2 linked regions of the Homo sapiens genome follow. The protein of the gene in region 2 interacts with the protein of the main gene of each other region in a pairwise test. Each region holds a gene or a part of one and is shown on either strand. Other genes may lie near its edges.

What was found.
Region 1: the proteins of CLDN14 (region 2) and PLLP interact in binary tests that used the Homo sapiens proteins (3 or more experiments, as listed by UniProt).

What each region holds. Positions count from the first base shown.
Region 1 is NC_000016.10:57,278,073-57,281,672, forward strand, and holds part of PLLP (plasmolipin), read right to left. Parts: intron 1-3,600. UniProt on the Homo sapiens protein: Main component of the myelin sheath that plays an important role in myelin membrane biogenesis and myelination. Plays an essential function in apical endocytosis. Regulates epithelial development through the regulation of apical endocytosis.
Region 2 is NC_000021.9:36,477,882-36,481,999, forward strand, and holds the start of CLDN14 (claudin-14), read right to left. Parts: upstream 2,242-4,118; 5' UTR 1,614-2,241; exon of another isoform or gene 1-1,613.

The sequences.
Region 1 (3,600 bases), on a different chromosome or scaffold from region 2:
CTCATGCCTGTAATCCCAGCACTTTGGGAGGCAGAGACAGGCAGATCACCTGAGGTCAAGAGTTCAAGACCAGCCTGGCCAACATGGTGAAGCCCCGTCTCTACTAAAAATACAATAATGAGTTGGGTGTAGTGGCAGGCACCTGTAGTCCCAGCTATTCGGGAGGCTGAGGCAGGAGAATGGCGTGAACCCGGGAGGCGGAGGTTGCAGTGAGCTGAGATTACGCCGCTGCACTCCAGCCTGGATGACAGAGCACAAGAAGAGCTCTCAGATGCACCAAGTATGAGAAAAGCAACTTGCTGAACAAAGGATACAGAATAAAACTATCAATGTTTTCAAAAGTGCACAGGAAAAAAGACTAGAAACACCCCAAATAGTTGTCCCCTTAGGGACAGAGGTGGGTAATCCAACTACAGCTTTAGTGTAATCTGTACAGGTTTTTTTATTTTGTGAGGAGAATGTATTCATATATTCATAATGTAATTACACATTAATTCCCAAACACTCAATACTCCCCCCCTTGCAGTAAGTGGGGAGTGTGGGGGGAACTAACAATACAAGGCATTTATTGCTCTGTGCAGTGGAGCTGGGTTGGATGAAGATATTGGGCATGCGGGGCCTGGAATGCTGTACTAAAAAGACTGAACCACCCACAAATCTCAGTGCTAAGGGAAGCCCCGGGAGTCTCAGACATTGCAATCCGAGTGTGACCAAGCCCTGCTCACACCTCACTCGGACTCCAACAATCTCATCTAGGTAGCCCCTTCCTGGAGACCAGAGTTGGCTTTCAGTCCCTGCCCTGCCCTTCATCTGCAGAGGAGCTGGTCTGCCTCCTGGGGCCGGAGACAGAGCCGGTATCACCATAAGGAAGAACTTTCCAACACTCCCAAGTGCCCAAGGATGGAGCAGGCAGCCTTAAGAAGAACTGAGCTCCCTGTCTCTGGAAGCATGCAAGTTCATGTTGGAGATGCTGCAAAGGCACCTCTTATGCTTGCATAAGAACCCTCGGATCCTATAACCCTGTGAATCCAAACTGTCCTTCATTCCCACATATAGTGCTAGGCTAGCTCTTTGCAGGCATGATCTAGATCCTGCCATCACCATCTGACAGACAAGGAAGTGAGGCTCAGGGAAATTTGGGAACTCCCCCAGGATCATGCAGCCAGAAAGGGACAGAGCCAGGATTTGAACCCAAGGCTCTCAGCGTCCAGGCCTGTGTTCCCATCAGCACTCTCCATGCCACCCCATGGATCATGGAGATCTAGGGAAGGCTTCTCTTCTTCTTCTTCCTTTTTTTTTTTTTTTGTTAAGAGTAGAGGACTGGGTACAGTGGCTCACACCTGTAATCTCAGCACTTTGGGAGGCCAAGGCAGGTGGATTGCTGGAGCCCAGGAGTTCGAGACCAGTCTGGGTAACATGATGAAATCCCATCTTTACAAAAAATATAAAAACTTAGCCAGGCATTGTGGCATGTACCTGTCGTCCCAGATACTCAGGAGGCCTGAAGTGGGAGGATCGTCTGAGCCTGGGAGGTTGAGGTTGCAGTGAGCTGTGATCACACTACTATAGTCCAGCCTGGGTGACAGAGCAAGACCTTGTCTCGAGGAAAAAAAAAAAAAAGTAGGGGTCTTACTCTGTCACCCAGGCTAGAGTGCAGTGACGTGATCATGGCTTACTGCAGCCTTAAACTCCAAGGCTCAAGCAATCTTCCTACCTCAGCCTCCCAAGTAGCTGGAACTACAGGCATGTGCCACCCTGCCACCTGCCTAGCTAGGTGAGGCTTTTGATCTGTTATTCACCTGCAAAGTGGGAATTGTGTGGCCACCCCCAATCCCAGGAGGTGGGGCAAAATGGAAGGACAGAAGGTACCAAACCAAATGGCCTTACCGCCACAGGGCATTCACACAGCTTCCACATCCTGGGCCTCAAGGACGCCTACTGACTGACAGGTCTCTGTACAAGCTCTGGTCTGTCCTGATCCTCCTTCTCCCTTCCTATGCCAGGAAGCCCTCCCTGATGGCCTTGGCCCCTGATGAGTCTCCCTTCCTGCAGTCCCCCTTTTCCCCCTAGAAAGCACTCTAGAACTTCCCACCCCCAAAGTAAACAAGATGAGGAAGCATAGCTAGAGCCAGGTTTTGGATTTCCAGATCGAAGTGCAAAGCCAAGCTTGCCACTCTATCCTGTGTGACCTTGGACAAGTTCCTCACCCTCTCGGAGCCTATTTACTTATCAGTAAATCCAGATAAGATCATCCTTCTCCCCACGGCTTGGGGAGGCTTGAAAAAATGAGAGATGGGCACCTAACAGCACTACTTTATACTTATTGTAAAAAGGCTTTGGGAGCTCCCCATAAGCAAATAACCACGCCTTCTGCATTCTTCCACCTGAGCTACACAAAAATCTGTAGCACTGATGCCTTTTTTTTTTAAAACCAAAAGAGTTATCTGTAGATCAAACTTGCCTGCCTTGTGACATGAATCCATTGGCAAGAGAAAACAAAACAAAACAAAACAAAGACCTGCCTCCTTTTTTAGACGCTATCTGCATAGATTCTTCATGTTTCCCTTTTTGCCTAGGCTGCTAGGAAGTTCAACAAATAATCAACAGCCTTAAACTTGCTGCAAGTCAATTCTCCCCTCCACACCACCAGCTTTTAAAGATACATCGCTTTAACTCTTCTGTCTTATGTGGTTTAATATCATATTCCATCTGGTGTTCTTTCTGAATCTACAAGGAATAACGATAGTGATAAATCAATGAACACCACCAGACATCTGTGAAGAATACTGAGATTGGTTCTTCAGGACACATTCTGATACCGAATGAAAAGTGTATCTCCTTCTCCAGGAGCTGGGAGCCTTTCTACCCACCTCCCCTTCCTCCCACCATACCAGGAACATTCATCAAATCCTGGGAAACAGAAGGGTTTGATGGAGAATTAGCTTCCATTTTCTCATTTATTTCCTGCTCCATGCAGCCTTCTCTGATCCCTCTGGGAGAAGCACATCCTCTGGGCACCTCTCTCACTGACCAAGAGCTCCTGGAAAGCAGGCTGTGGGCCCAGGGTCCCCACCACTCCCTCCATAATGACAGATCCTGGGAAGGTAGCAGCAAAGCCACACGTGGTCATTAAGACCATAGGCCAGAAAAGTCAGAAAAATCACTCCTGTGGAGGAGGGCTGTGAGATCTTGGGCAAAGAACTGGCCTCTGAGCCTCAGTTTTCTCACCTAAAATGGGGCCGACTAAGAAGATCTAAAGGCCTTGGCAAAGGGCCTGAGCCTAGTGCTGGCCTGATAGATGGGAGCTACCATGGCTTCCCAGCAGATGGTGGTGCCTGTTGGATTAACCCCCACATATCCCATTTCAGACCCAGTGGAACTACCTGTTGCCAGAGAAACAGCTCAGGATGCAGCTTCTCCAACAAGCAGATTTTTTTTTTATTTCTTTTTTTTTTTGAGACGGAGTCTCTTTCTGTCTCCCAGGCTGGAGTGCCGTGGCGCCATCTCGGCTCACTGCAAGCTCCACCTCCCGGGTTCACGCCATTCTCCCGCCTCAGCCTCCCGAGTAGCTGGGACTGCAGGCACCCACCACCATGCCAG
Region 2 (4,118 bases):
GTGAAGAATCCACAGATTAGCTGGAAGGAGGAACGTTTGAGTTTGAAAACGCCAAGAATCATTCCTGAACTGGCAAGGCTGGCCACCTGCGTTTTAAAAACACATTGGCACTAGCCTTGAAAACAGACTTTTAGACTTCTTACTCTGCGTAATGAAAGATCTTTTCTGATATATAGGCAACAGAATGATTTTTTTAAAAACAATAATGGACATATTCCATTTTATTGATCTTTACCTAAAAACTAAAAACTAACTGGAAAACAGGAAATATTTAATAGTGACATTTTCATAGCACCAAAGGAAGAATCTACGTGTCTTCCTTTTTATAGATTTTTCTGTAGATGTCTTAAGAAGCATTGAACCCTTTATACAGATGGGTAAATAAAACACAGTAAGCTTGAGATATGCAAATCAGATTGGAGCCAGATAAGGATGGGGGCTGGCGCTGGCTTCAATTCTGACTAATCTTGGGCAAGCTGCTCAGCCTATTACTCACTGTCTACACAGGAATGACTGTCTACATAGGAATAGCTCCTCTGCAGAGACATCTAGAAGATGCTGAGATAATATATGTAAAAACTGACAAGCCCTTTGGGACAGATACCAGCAAATGCAAGGCGTATGCTATGGAAGTTTTATCATCCTAACAGATAAGCCCGTCCCCAACTCCAGTGAGTGACTGAGAGACACGGGCATGAACGCTGAGCTCAGATGACAGCATCTTTTCACAGCAGACCTGGGCCCAGCCCCTGGAAGCACACGATGATGAACTGTCCTCTGGTTTCCCAAGACTTCAAAAATGAAACCCAGTGATCAAGAGATGTTTGGCTTTGAACACTGCGGGAATTAAAGCCAGCACCCAGTTAAAGCCAGTGAGGACAGCACTCCAAGGTTTGGGGACGGTCTCAGGACACTAATCCTGGTTCCTTTTCTATTTTGCCTGGGTCCCTCCTGCCCATCCTGGGAAGCCGTGGCAGCTGTTGGGGATGTGGGGCCCCAGGTAACTGAAGGATTAACTCACGTCTCAAATTGCATGGCATTTCTCCTCTTCAGCACCATTTTTTACCCTCATTGAGAGAGATCTATCACTTCCCCCCCTCTCCTGCCATGCCAATATGTGTCTGTGTTGGAGGGCAGGGGTGTATTTAGGGAGCAGGAGAATGTTCCCAAGTCTGGAAACTCGGAACAGTCTGCCTGGCCCTCTTTGCAGAAAAACGAGGGAGTCCCAGCAGACAGAAGGGGGCAGTGGCGCTGAGCTCCCCGAGCTGAGCTGTGGCCTCAAAACACTGAACAGATTCAGTCCTTCCTCCCAAACAGGCCTGGTAAGCGATGAAAAGAGTTCTGCCCAAACACTCAGGAACTGGATTATTGTCGTTCCTGGCTCATTAGGAGCCTGGCTGCCCTCATGCCAGCTGCGTGGGGTCCTCTGGAGGCCACCCAGACCAGCCTGCAGCTTCCTTTCCTGTAGGGGCCAGCACGGTCCCTTCCTCTGGAGAACGCTCGGACCCCTGGCTGCATGCACATCTAACCGGCAGGGCCTAAGGGCTTCCAAAACAGATGACTGTCAACCCCAGCCCGCCCACCCCACATCCACAGCTTCACCCCAAACTCACATGCAGAAAACCTCGAGTCTCATCTTCCTGTTCAGGTCCCTTGCCAGCCGGAGCCGCTCTGGAGCCTGGCTGGACTCCAGCTCCCATGTGCAAGAGGACTCAGCCGGGACGCTGCCACCCTCCTGCCTTCCCTCTTCTGCCAACCAGACGCTTCCAGGACGGAGTATTTGAGAGAAAATTGTCTAGACAATTACAGTGTTCCTTAGAATGGCCTGCGTGGGCACACGTGCCACTTGGTTAGCTAGCATGAGAGGAGGTGGCTTGGCCAGAGCAGACATTCAAGACCAACCAGAAATGTCATTTCTGCACTGTGGAAAAAAAATGCACGATACACCTGAACCTGGGCATCTCCTTCCTAACACGCGCTCAGGATCAAGCCTCCCCTTCCCAGCCTGGCAGGGTTGCAGGGCGTCCATAGTCCAGCCTACGCCTGCCCAGGCTCTCGGCTCCGGGTCCATTGGCTGTTCACACTCACTTCCCTGTGTCCTGGAACTGCCTGATTGTTGTAGATTACTAAAAATCCACAGCTCATTCCCTCCTGCGCCCTGACCACCTGCCCACAGCGACTGTGTCCTCCTCTGAGCCACCACCTGGCGGTTGTCCTCACACTGCTTTGGACTTTTCTGCTATTGAGTAACTCAGCTTCTCAGCCTTTAGGCTGCTATGGGCCCTAGATGCATGCTGGTCGATTCTGATCAACGAGCAACTGCTTTTGTTTGTTTGCTTTTTTCTACAGCTGCAGCTGTGGGTGATTCGGATGGTCTGTTGGTGGAATGTGGAGCTGGACGGGTCAAGGAGCACAGTGTGGAAAGAGGGACAATTTGCTACAAGTTGGAGATAAGAGACATGGCATACTGTGAAACCAGTGCTGACGGAAGAAGGTGACTTTCTTGGAAGGTCAAGACACTTGCTTGACAGCGATGTCCAGGAGGGCTAGGGAGAGTTCTGCTGGAAGTGAAGGCAGCACCTGAGGGTGGCTGAGGGAACTGGTCAGGGCTGGGAACGCCTCCAGCCCTTTGAGGAATGATTCGCTGATTAAGAGATGTTTGGCCTTGAAAATTGCAAGAATGAAATCTCTTGGTGGGAATGTGTAGCCAAAAGCCAGCACCCTGAGTGGCTCCAAGGTTTGGGGACCCTCTCAAGGCACAAATCCCAGTTCCTTTTCAATTTTGAAAATCGTTGTGGGCGATTCTGGAATTGAGAAGTGTGCTGAGAGCCATGGATTTAACATGACAAGAATTTCCGCCCCTTCGTCACTGAGCACACCGCAAATGCTCCAGGGCCAGGGACTTACTTGGGCTTCTGCGTGTCTTCCACAGTGTGCATCAATCCGCCGGGCTCTGGTTGGTGTTTAAAAAAAAAGATGCAGCGAAGGAATCTGGTGTGGACAAACGCCCTGGGCATGGACCAAAAGCCTGGCCCTTGTGTCCCTGGCAATGGGACGGTGAAGGACAGAAAGACAGCACATCCAGTAGTGTCAGGAGCTTGGAGCAGGCATTCGGAAGCATCTGTTAAATGTTATTGATGGAGGATTGACATAACCCACATCTGCATAGCTTTTTTGGTCTGTTTTTGGAAGTGAACAGTCACAAACAAAAACAACTTTGGTTCAGGTCATTTATAGGCCCAGATCCTCTATCCTTAGAGGTTTCCCACCAGATATACTATTTCACTATCTATGCCAGGAAAGTTACGTAAAACCACGCAGAATTTTACCTGACAACGAAATAGACCTTTTCGTTAGATCCTCCACCCCACCTAAAGCAGTTACACAGGCTGAAATGAAACTGTTAAAGGAATGAACTAACTTGGAGATAGAATCATCGCCTTTGCTGAACACCATTTTAAGAATATTGGAATATATAGGGGTACCAGCATAATAGTAAAATGTGCCCATATTATCTATAATTTTATGCTGGGCACTTTTTAGAAATTATTTTTTATAACTTTGTCTTTGAGATGATTTGGCTACAAGTTCATTACATTTAGTTTACAACTGGCTTTGATTTCTTGGCATTCGTTGTGTATTATTAGGAAACCCCGCAGAGAGAAAATGTAAACTCCAAATTGCTTTAAAATATTATGATAGTTTTTAGGGATATTACACTGTGACAGTGAATGAAATGGACGTAACGTTCTGTTTTGTAGATATTTTGTGAAATCTTTATTAGTCTTGATTTTCTTTGGAACAAGTCATTCCTGTTCTGGGCTGAAGCCTGAAAATTCCCTGACCTGTGACCCTGGCCCAAGGCTCCTCTTGGATAAAACAGTGTTTCCTGGACCAGAGGGCAAAGTCACAGAAACATGATGTGACGAAATCTAAATAGAAAGGTATTGATTTGTTCTTCGTTCATCAAATAGTTATTGGACTCCAGCACGTATGAGTAGCAGGGAGCCTGGCTAGCACTACACCTTCCCCTCCTGCCTCTCAGGGTCAGGGCCACAGGCACACACAGAGCGAGGGAAAATGAGGGGGTAGAGAGGCTGGTCCCGAGTCTCCAGCCC